Regions from separate parts of the Homo sapiens genome. Here region 2 is linked to region 1. The links come from fine-mapping of genetic effects on gene expression. Tissue or cell type: whole blood. Region 1 holds a variant in brackets; the other region holds the start of a gene. All regions are shown on one strand. Distances are from middle to middle.

Region 1 (5,148 bases):
TTTCATAGACTAGGGCCCAATTTAAGAAATGTTAACCAAGACCCAGCTCAAGCATAATGAAGTCTTTCCTATACTCTGCCTTCGACTTCCCTCCAAATGTAATTACTGTACTATCCCATCCAATGATTAAACTTAGTATAAGGCCATCTCCATTTTCTCATTTTTCTTCAGAATGTTTAGAGAAGAGATATAGCTACTGTGTGTGTGTGGGTGAGGGAAGGAGAACAGAGAAGAGCTGATGATAATGATGAAGCAAGAGGAAGGAAGATGATCACATTAAAACTATAGTGTCCTAATTTTCATAAAGCTGGCCCAGATCAAATTCTTTTGAACACAATTGAATAATGTTCTAGCAAGAAAGGCATTTAGAGGTGAATAATCTAATCCAAGCCCCTTTATCCTTCCAGAAAAGGAAACTGAGCCTCAGAGACTATACAAGGTCACAAGCTAACCAATATTGTTTGTACTACTCCATCATGTTCTCTTTTCATAACCTAGTCCTACTTTCCAAACAATGGAAGCTGTGATCAATGATGTCACTTCTACTAATAGTTCCTAAAAATGTTTCCATTTGTAACTGTATTATTTCATCTAATCTACAGAAGATTACATTCAAATTTTGTTCTTAAAATTTCTGGCAAATTCAAGAGAAATTTTTTACCATTTGTTAGCCTAGTAAAAATGAAAGCAATTGAGTTGGTAGTGGAGGGGGGACAAGCAAAACAAATATTTTATTACATTTTGTGTAATAGTCTTAATTAACAGGCCAATCTTCAGGATGACTCGGTATTAAATCAGGCATTTATTAATTTAGCTGCCACACAATTCAGTATAATAGCTATCTACTCTTTCAGCTGGGACAATGCTTGCCAAACTTGCCATTTCACATACCACCTCAACAAGTTTGGCTTGCTGTATCTGCCAACTGCCCATACTAATTTTGTATTTATCTTTATATTGATTTAAAATCCATTCCTTTTTAATACTTTGCCTGCTCTAAGCCATAACATCTACTAAATCACAAGCCTGATGTGCTGATTTTTCTAATACACAAGAAAATAATTACATAGCTACTAAAATACGTCCATGGACATACCATCTAAACTCATGTCACGTGATACCAGCGATATTCTTACTGTACTTTAGATGAGCTGACCCTGGGCTGACTGACAATTTATGATATGAGTAAATAATAAAATAATTATTCTCCAATATCTGAGTTGCTAATTATTCAGATTCTTAGTAATATACCAGAAATGCAGGGTCCCATCACCAATTTCAACAGACAGAAACTCAGGAAGCCTAGGTTTTCAGATTTTATCATGCATAAGAAATATATGAGACACTTGTTTCCCTCCCTCAGACACTCTGATTCAGTAAATCTGGGATGGAGCCCGGGAAGCTGCATTTTTACAGGTGCTCCAGAGAATGCTGTCTTGGGAAGACCCAAGGGTCACATTTTGAAAAACAGTGGATGAGGCTGGGTATGGTGGCTCACACCTCTAATCCCAGCATTTTGGGAGGCCGAGATGGGAGGATCGCTCGAGCCCAGGAGTTCAAGACCAGCCTGGGAAACGTAGTAAGACCCCATCTCTATAAAAAAAAAAAAAAGAAAGAAAGAAGAAGAAGAAAAAGAAGAAAAAAAAAGATCGAAAAGCAGTGGATGGGAATGGGGGTGGGACAAAATCTTAAAATCACTCTAGCTTTTCAATAGGATGACTTGAGTTCAAATCCCAAGTCTAACTGTATGACCCTAAGCAAGTCATTTCATCTCTCTAGGCCTCGGTTTCCTCATCCATTAAATGATGATTGTAGTAATAGCTACCTCAATGGACTTTTTTAAAGAAGCAAGATCTCTCTATGTTGTCTAGGCTAGAGTGCATTGGCTTTTCACAAGTGTGACCACAGCACACTGCAGCCTTGAACTCCTGGACTCAAGTGATCCTCCCATCTTAGCCTTCCAAGTAGCTGAGACTACAGACCACCACACCCAGATTCACTAGGTTGTTTTAAGGCTTAAATGGATGACATGTCAAAAAGCATTACAAAACCCCAGAGCCTGTATGTGTTAGAGGGTTGATGATGATGATGATGATGATGACATAGAACCATTCTCGACAGCCTGTTACAACTCAGAAGACAATCAGCATTTCAAATAAGATGCCAAGCATTCTGCTCCACATAAACATCTGCTCCCATTTAATTACTGATGTTGAGTTTAATCTATAATAAATTAGCCCCCAAATTAAGTGTGTATTTCAAATAAGACATTTACACAACAGATAATTTCAAATATCAGCTGATGACTGCAACTTAAATCCTCAAGGAACTTTATCTGGCTCTTCAGGGTCAACCCCATGCAATAGCTCCCATGCCAGAGGGGTCCCAAAGGCCCATTTTGGTTACCCTGATTTTAAGAACTACTTTATAGGGAACATGTACAATTATCCTTGTGGTTTAGAAATATTTTATGTATTTATTATGTAAAAAAAAAAACTCTCCTTGAAGAAAGTGTAACAACCCCTGAGTTATAAATTTAACACCAACTTTTCAGATTTGGCTGCAGGGCAAATATAACAAAGACAATTATAAAACATGCCCCCTTACAATAATTCATCAAAGACTTTAGCTATGATCTGATGTAGGAACTTAAAATTTAATTTCCAAAAGAAAG[A/C]AAGCCTTATTTTTTCTGAATACCATCTGTTCAACCATTCCAACATGAGCTAATTCAGCTACACAAAATTTGTAAATAGACTGAGATTGAAAAAACTTAGTTGCTTCATGTTAAAGTACAGATTCAGTCTGATCTATTCATGCAATGTTAGAAAGCTATGCACACAGTCGACATTCAATCTTTTATAGGACACACACAACACTAACAACTATTCAACCTTAATGAAAACATTACAGTTAACTCATAATTGTCCATAAAGAAAATCACCCCGAAGTGTGAGAGCTATTCTCTGCTAAAATGGGTTCTTAAGTCTCTCTACTCAGCGGGCAGTTTCTCAGCTAAGGTGCAGGCAATAGGGCAACTGGAACTGATGCGATCCGCAGCTGCTCAGTGACCAGCCATTCACGCATCAGTGATGCAGCAAATGCTTCTCCCACCTGGAGACAGTGTGTTTGCCCGACCAGGTTTTAAGGTCCAGGAGCCCCAGCTGCTCTTTTATGGGCAAACATGAACACCACATAGCAGGAAAAATGATTAAGAAATACACTGTCACTCTTCTAGCTGGGCAGATTATCCAATTTCTGCTAATCCACAGCTATGCCTTCCTTTGGTAGGCATAATCAACAGCATCTGCCAGTTTGGATGAGGCAAGAGACAGCACCATAGCCAAATCTCAATTAATTGGCCTCCTGAGCCTGTTTCTGCACTTGTTATTACCCTATGAGCTCTAAAGAGGAACTGAAGATAAAGCTCCTAAACAAGGAGTACCTATTAAGAATTAATTAGGATCTTTACTGTAATTCTTGATATTTGTAAGATTTGATGTCTGGCAAGGACCATGATATTGAGAGACTATTAACTAATGGTAGTCTGGGATACCAAATGCATTTTACACACACTTGTGAAAAATCAATCATCTCTTACTAGCAGGAAAAATGACCACTAATAAACAGAAACCTCAACTTAGGCAAACATCAGTACTGAAATATAAATGTGATTTCATTTAATATACCTATTAATAGTTTATTGACATTAAAACAAAGTTAGTCTTTAGCCTTAACAAAGATGGAACAAGCGATTTTTTTGATTTGTTAATTGATTCAATATTTATTGAGCAACTGTTATGCTCCAGGATTGTGCCTGGGAAGCCAGTGGTAAAACTGCCCTAGTCTCTGCTGACAAGGAGCTTATCACTTAAATTTAGAATAAGCAGGGAATCTAACTTTTAAAATGAACAAAAAGAGATTTTCACTTCAGTAAGGACTGAAAAATGAGGCTGCCCATACAATACTCTTTTGAGATTCTGGAAGGGTTTTTATACATTCTAGTATCACATGTTAATGCTGAATACTCACAGATAATACATAAATTAAAAAATTGTGAAGTTAGGGAAGTATTGTACATCAAGATATTTCCTGAAACTCACAATACTAACAAAGAAGCTATATGCATTTATTATTATAAAATGGAACTTGATTTTTAAAAGAATCATTGTCATCTAAAGACAGCTTCTCCTTTCAATTACAAAACTATGACTACATGTACTGGATACTGGTAAAATTTCTCTTCTACATTTCAGATCTAACAACAGAGAACCTTTCATCCTTATTCTCGAGCAAATGGCCATGTTGCATCAAAAGGCCAACAGCTCACTTGAATTAAAACTGCAAAGCTTCTTGGCTACTTAGCATACTGAAAATGAATTAAACACTCAATGTTGCTTACCTTGTAATCTCTGGACACATTTTCTGATGTCACTGAACCTGAAATCTGACTAGAAATTGTAGCAGCTATAAGCTGTTTACACCATTCAACATGTGATCCTGTGGGACTAAAAAAAATAGCATGGATTACAAAACGTTATATCATAGGATCTCAGTGAAAAAATTAGCACTGAATAGGAATATGATAACACTTCTTTTTTTAGATGAACTAACTAGACTCTTTGGTTACCTTCACATTTTATGTAAGAACTGAAATAGCGACTGACAACTAGGAAATAAGATTAGATTCCAGGTTAATTTTAAATGAATCACCCAATTTTCTCAAACAAAGTTGAAGATTCTAGGTGTTAGTTAAGCTTACTATTCTCTACCATTTAATGGAATTTTACTCTATTAAAATTATATGGAAGAAATACTTCTTTTTTTTTTTGTGAGATGGGGTCTCACTCTGTCACCCAGGCTGGAGTGCAGTGGTGCAATCTCAGCTCACTGCAACCTCCCAGGTTCAAGTGATCCTCCCACCTCAGCCTCCTATGTAGCTGGGACTACAGGCACATGCCACCAGGCCCGGCTTTTGTGTGTGTGTGTGTGTGTGTGTGTGTGTGTGTGTGTGTGTGTGTGCGCGCGCGTGTAGACAGGGTTTTGCCATGTTTCCCAGGCTAGTCTCGAATTCCTGGGCTCGAGTGACCCACCCGCCTTAGCCTCCCAAAGTGCTAGGATTACAGGCATGAGCCACCACACCCAGCCGGG
Region 2 (5,148 bases), 130 kb after region 1:
TCATTTGACAGATAAGGAAACTAAAGCACAGAGTTAAGTACCTTGCCTAAAGTCACACAGATAATATTAGGTCCAGGATTCAAATTGGGGCAGGCTGCCCAATCCAGAGTCAAAATCTTCTAGGCAAATGACGGTCCCTATCCCCCACATCTGCCAAAAAGGAAATAAAGAACTAGAAAACTAGAAAATAATGAAAGCAGAACTTCAAAGAGGTCGAAAACAGGAAAGGAAAATTACTAAAGAATAATGAAAACAATCTATTATTCTGTTACAAAATCGAATAAACTTTAGAAATGAGAAACTCCAGCCTTTGAAATCCTCTGGTTACCCCTTTAAAATGTCACCTATTAATCGTTGAGAGTCTCCACTTTTCTCTTTATTTTGGAGCCCTCAATAAGAGCAAGAACCATGTGTTTTCAGTGGTTTCTAAGTAACTACATTTTGTTAATCTGCCTCTCATTTTGGAACAAAAAATATTAAAGTATTTTTTGTAACTTTAATTATTTTTCAGACCTGTAAAAGTTTAAAATTTTGCTTTGAAGCCATTGAACATACAGAATATGAGAGAACTTAGAAGGTATTAAACAGATGAACTTTTACAGTCAACTCTCATTAATGCCATTTTATTAGCGAGCACTCTTGTTCCTAAGAATGAGTGCTTCTTTTCTCTTGAGCTATTTCAAAATGAACTAGTTTCTTTACAAACCACACAAGGACTGATGATCATTTCAGATAAGAGGTTCACAGTACAAACCATTGCACAGGAAGAGAAACCCTTGTGCAAGGTAGCCTGAGAGTCCAGCAGACACCGGCATGAAATCAACAACCAATATTGACCTCAGCAGAGCTTTCTGTAGCTACAGTCAGCTATCTAACTATGAAAACAGCAAAGGATTTGAAAAATACCTCTCTAGGTATTTGAAATCACTTACTGTTTGCATGTCGGGGTGGGGGGAAATGTGAGTAAAAATGAGGCTGGGATGAGCTTACCATCTAAAAGACACTCATTGGAGAAATGATGACTCCAAAAAATCTCTTTGATTCAGAGATTTACTTTTGGATTTATTTCCTTTACTGGAGCAGCAGCTGGCAATCTAAAACTAGAAATTCAAAGTAATGCCCAAGTCATTCTCAATCATGCCAGCCTGTTTCACTGTCATTGTAAGGTTTCAGAGCTCTATTTTTTCTCATAGCGCTCATCTCTGCCAGAAAATATATCATTGTTTATTTTTTTATTGTGTGCCTCCCCACATATAAACTCTATAAGGCAGGGACCTCAGCAGTGGGGCTCTTTGCTGTCTTCCCAGTGCCCACCGTTGGCATTCTTGTGTTTGATGAATGAATGAAACCATCGACAACTTAATAAATGTAGTTAGAACTTTAAGTTAAAGAGACCAATCATTTACTAACTACACTAGAATCTACAAGCCCCCCGTGAATGTTATCCACCCTCAAGCACCCGGGAGGGTACTATACACTGGTGCTGCAGGCAGCACCACTGGTTCAAATCTCCCCCATGGTGTGGAATCTCTGAAAAGTAGATTTGATTTTGTGAAGCAGCCAAAAGCCATTCAGAATCAAATCTGGTGAATACATGATCGTGCCCAATATATATGTTGGATGAAGGCAAACGTGTCTGCAAAGTAACAGGCCTGATTGTCTTATTTGGTTGGTAAACCGATTTTGAAGGAAATTCAAAATGGTTTGCAGTCTAGCAAAATTGCTGGCTCAGTCTCAAGACTCTAAGGTGCTTATTTCACAAGGAATAATACTGAGCTGTGGTAAAAAGAATCCAGACTAGACAGACACCAAGATACCCCCAAAGAGCTGGCTTGTGATATTAGCTTTGCCATTAAGTTGCCCTGAAGCCCGGGACATATTAGTTACCCTCTCTGGGCCTCAGTTCCCCCATCCAGGAAACAAATGAACAATGTAAACTTCAGGATGCCAGTCAATTCTAAAATGCTATAATTTTATTCTTGTGAAGATCTGGTGTATCTGTTTCAAAACCAGTCGCAACCCACTTCGCCTCAAACGATGCGTGCGTCTATAAAGCTCTAATATAATTTTTGCAGCAGATTCACTTCTTACTTGCTTAGGCAAATACTAAAATTAGTTTTCACTTCCTGAGCGCAGCAAAAGACAGTTAAGGGAGGCAACCCGGCCACGGGCGCTTGCTCGTGCCTGTACATACTTCCGACTGCGTATCAGGGAACTAACCGTTCCCTCTAAGATCTTCCCTCAACTGTTGCAAAAGCAGATAAACCTCTCGTGTATGACACAGAAACACTGGCCGAGAGCGGCCATCGAGGCTTCGCGGCCAGTGCCGGGCTGCGGCCGCTCCGCAGGGCCCACCGGGGATGCGACGGACGCCCGCTCCGTGCGGAGGGCCAAGGCGAGGACCAGCCGCGGAGCGTCGCCGGGGAGGCAGGGCGGACGCCCGGCCCACTCACCGCCCCGGGACGGGGAAGCAAAGTCCAGGCAGTGGCTGAGACGTCCGCCCCCAGCTCCACGGCCAGCCAACCCCTACCCCCGTCCCGACCTTCGCCCGCCGCCGGCCGGCCACCTTGGGCGGGGAGAACGGGAGGAAGCCGGAGGTACCTGCCTGCTGCTCCCTGGCCTCAGCCCTGCCCCGCGGGGACAGCGACGGCGCTTGGACGAAACCCCCACCCAACCCTGACGGTGCGGCAAGGCCCCGCGCGACCCGCTGGCCCAAGGAGTCCCAACTTCCTCCTCCCGATCCCCTCACCACGGGTCCCCGCAGTGCCCGGCTCCGAGCCAGGCCAGCCGTGAGCGCGCACCCACCTCGGGCTCCGGGCGCCACCGCCGTTGCCAGGCTGCTCGGCTGCCGGGCCCTGCTCCGCCCCCTCTGGGGTCCGCCCCCCACGGCCTGCCCGCCCCCGGCCACCGCCCGCTGCCCGCCTCCCCGTGCCGGTTGGCGGGACTGCATCACGTGACGGGGCAGGGGGCAGGAAGAGTGCGCCGGGTCGACCTGGGGAGCAGCTCCGAAGGGCGGGGCTCTTCGCCCGAGAGGCTGCTGGGAAGCCCATTTTGAAGGGTCCGACGCATGGAGGCAGCTGGGAATTGTAGTTCGCAATATGGTGCTGGGGATGGGCGGGGCCAAGATGCCAGGGGCCATCCCTGTAAGGGAAGTTGGACTGGGCGCCGGGCGGAGGCGGCTGGGAAGCGTAGTCCCGGGACCCTTGTCTGGGTCTCCCCATTTTTCTTCAGTAAAGGGGAAATCCAGAGGGAAAACTTCTCTATACAAGACTTTAGCGGATGCCACTAAATTGAGCTATTATTGGGTACACAGGGTTGGCTGCGTAAAGTTGAGATAGTATAAGGGAAAAAGAAATTTCACTGACTCTGGGGCAGGATCTGCAATTCACAAACTCAACTAACAGCTGGGGTGTCCCTCAGCTGTGCCAGCACCTTTCCAAGAACGCAATTGAGACTTAGTGAACGGAAACATTTCAGTCCAAAATTCCTTCTACTTGTTGAGGTTTGGGTCAGACAACTATTGATACAGTAAAAAGAAAGGGACAGGAAAAAGAGAAGAAAGGCAAACTTCAAGAAGAGAATTCATTGTGTAATCAAATAAAACAAACAATCTGGGCCGGGCGCGGTGGCTCACGCCTGTAATCCTAGCACTTTGGGAGGCCAACGCAGGCGGATCACCTGAGGTCAGGAGTTCGAGACCAGCCTGGACGACATGGTGAAACCTCGTCTCTACTAAAAATACAAAAATTATCCAGGCGTGGTGGCAGGTGTCTGTAATACCAGCTGCTCGGGAAGCTGAGGCAAGAGAATCGCTTGAACCCGGGAGGGAGAGGTTGCAGTGAGCTGAGATGGCACCACTGCACTCCAGCCTGTGTGACAAAGCGAGACTGCGTGTCAAAAAAATTAAAAAAAGAAAAGACAACCTGGCACATAGAAAAATGAGCATAATATTCTTTGTACTGCATAATACTTATACGCGAGCAGTTCGAGTAAATAGGATGACTTTATCATGACCTGTTTTTTTTCTCTTGTATGTGTTAGTTCTCCAGCATCTAAAAACAGCATTTTACCTGATACCAGTGTATATGTGTACGTGTGTTTCTACATAGTCACACACATATACACATATATTCATATATCATTTATATATGCATATATATATGCTTTATTGAAGAGTCTAGACTTCTTAGAAGAGTAACAAAGCCATCCAGAATCCAACCCAACCCACTCTTTAGCCACTTCTCCCAGTGTGCCTCTTTTTGCTCTTCACCCCAAGCTCTGGCCTAGTTCCAGGGAACTTGATGCACTGGGTTTTTTCTTTCCTCCAGCCCTTTCCACTTGGTCCTCTCTCCTGGATTTGCCAAACTCCTGGAAAGACAGCAGAATAGCAGCTGCTCCTGGGCCCCCGCACAATTAGAAGTCTCCCCCACCCAGCCCTTCTTGTTGTACTGATGTCATCATTTGCTTACACGTCTGCTCTGCCAACTCCCCTCCCCAGACTATGAACTCCTTTGAATCTCATTCACTTTTGTGCTGAATTTCAAAGCACGCTCAGTAAATTTGCATGCTAGAGAGGCTCCCTGGTGGGCTGCTGAATAACTCTGGATTCCTGGTATCTGTGAATCTTAGGGCAGAGGGATAGAGGAAAATGGGGATGGGTGGAGGGAGGGCAGCAGCTGCCTGGGATACCTTGCATATAATAGGCCTGGTTAAGTGTCCCAAGATGAGGCCAAAGCTTTTCGATGGAGCTGGGAGGAGCTGGGGGTTAGGAGGTGGGGAAGGTGCAGAGCAGGGATGGTCTCATCCTAAGGAGGTAATTCCTGAAGATTTTTCCAGGGTCCAGCCCCAGCCCAGCCCCACCTCTAGAAAGATGCAATTCAACCAGAAAGGGCCAGTAGAGAAGATTAGCCTTTGGCCTGTGAAATGGAGAGAGTAACCCCTGCCGTGCCTGTCTCACGGTGTAGGTGCAGAGATCGAATGAGGCAACAGATGAGGAAGCACTTTGAAAACTGTAAAGGTTGTACACTATGGGCTGGGCGCGGTGGCTCAGGCCTGTGATCCCAGCACCTTGGGAGGCCGAGGCGGGCGGATCACTTGAGGTCAGGAGTTCGAAACCAACCTGGCCAACATGGTGAAACCCCGTCTCTA

The links. PIP is the estimated chance that this variant, and not a neighbour inherited with it, causes the effect.
Region 2: MTM1 starts here. The variant in region 1 is fine-mapped to the expression of MTM1 in whole blood (TOPMed, PIP above 0.99).

What each region holds. Positions count from the first base shown.
Region 1 is chrX:150,698,552-150,703,699 of GRCh38, reverse strand. MTMR1 (myotubularin related protein 1) reads right to left here. Exons shown (of 16, transcript NM_001306144.3): 2 at 4,400-4,505. Among named protein-coding and RNA genes, the nearest start is that of MTMR1, 7.7 kb to the right of the region's middle. The variant A/C (reference allele first, on the strand shown) is at 2,675.
Region 2 is chrX:150,566,320-150,571,467 of GRCh38, reverse strand. It overlaps MTM1 (myotubularin 1), which reads right to left and starts at 2,847. Exons shown (of 15, transcript NM_000252.3): 1 at 2,806-2,847. RefSeq lists a silencer at 2,366-3,045 and an enhancer at 4,330-5,148.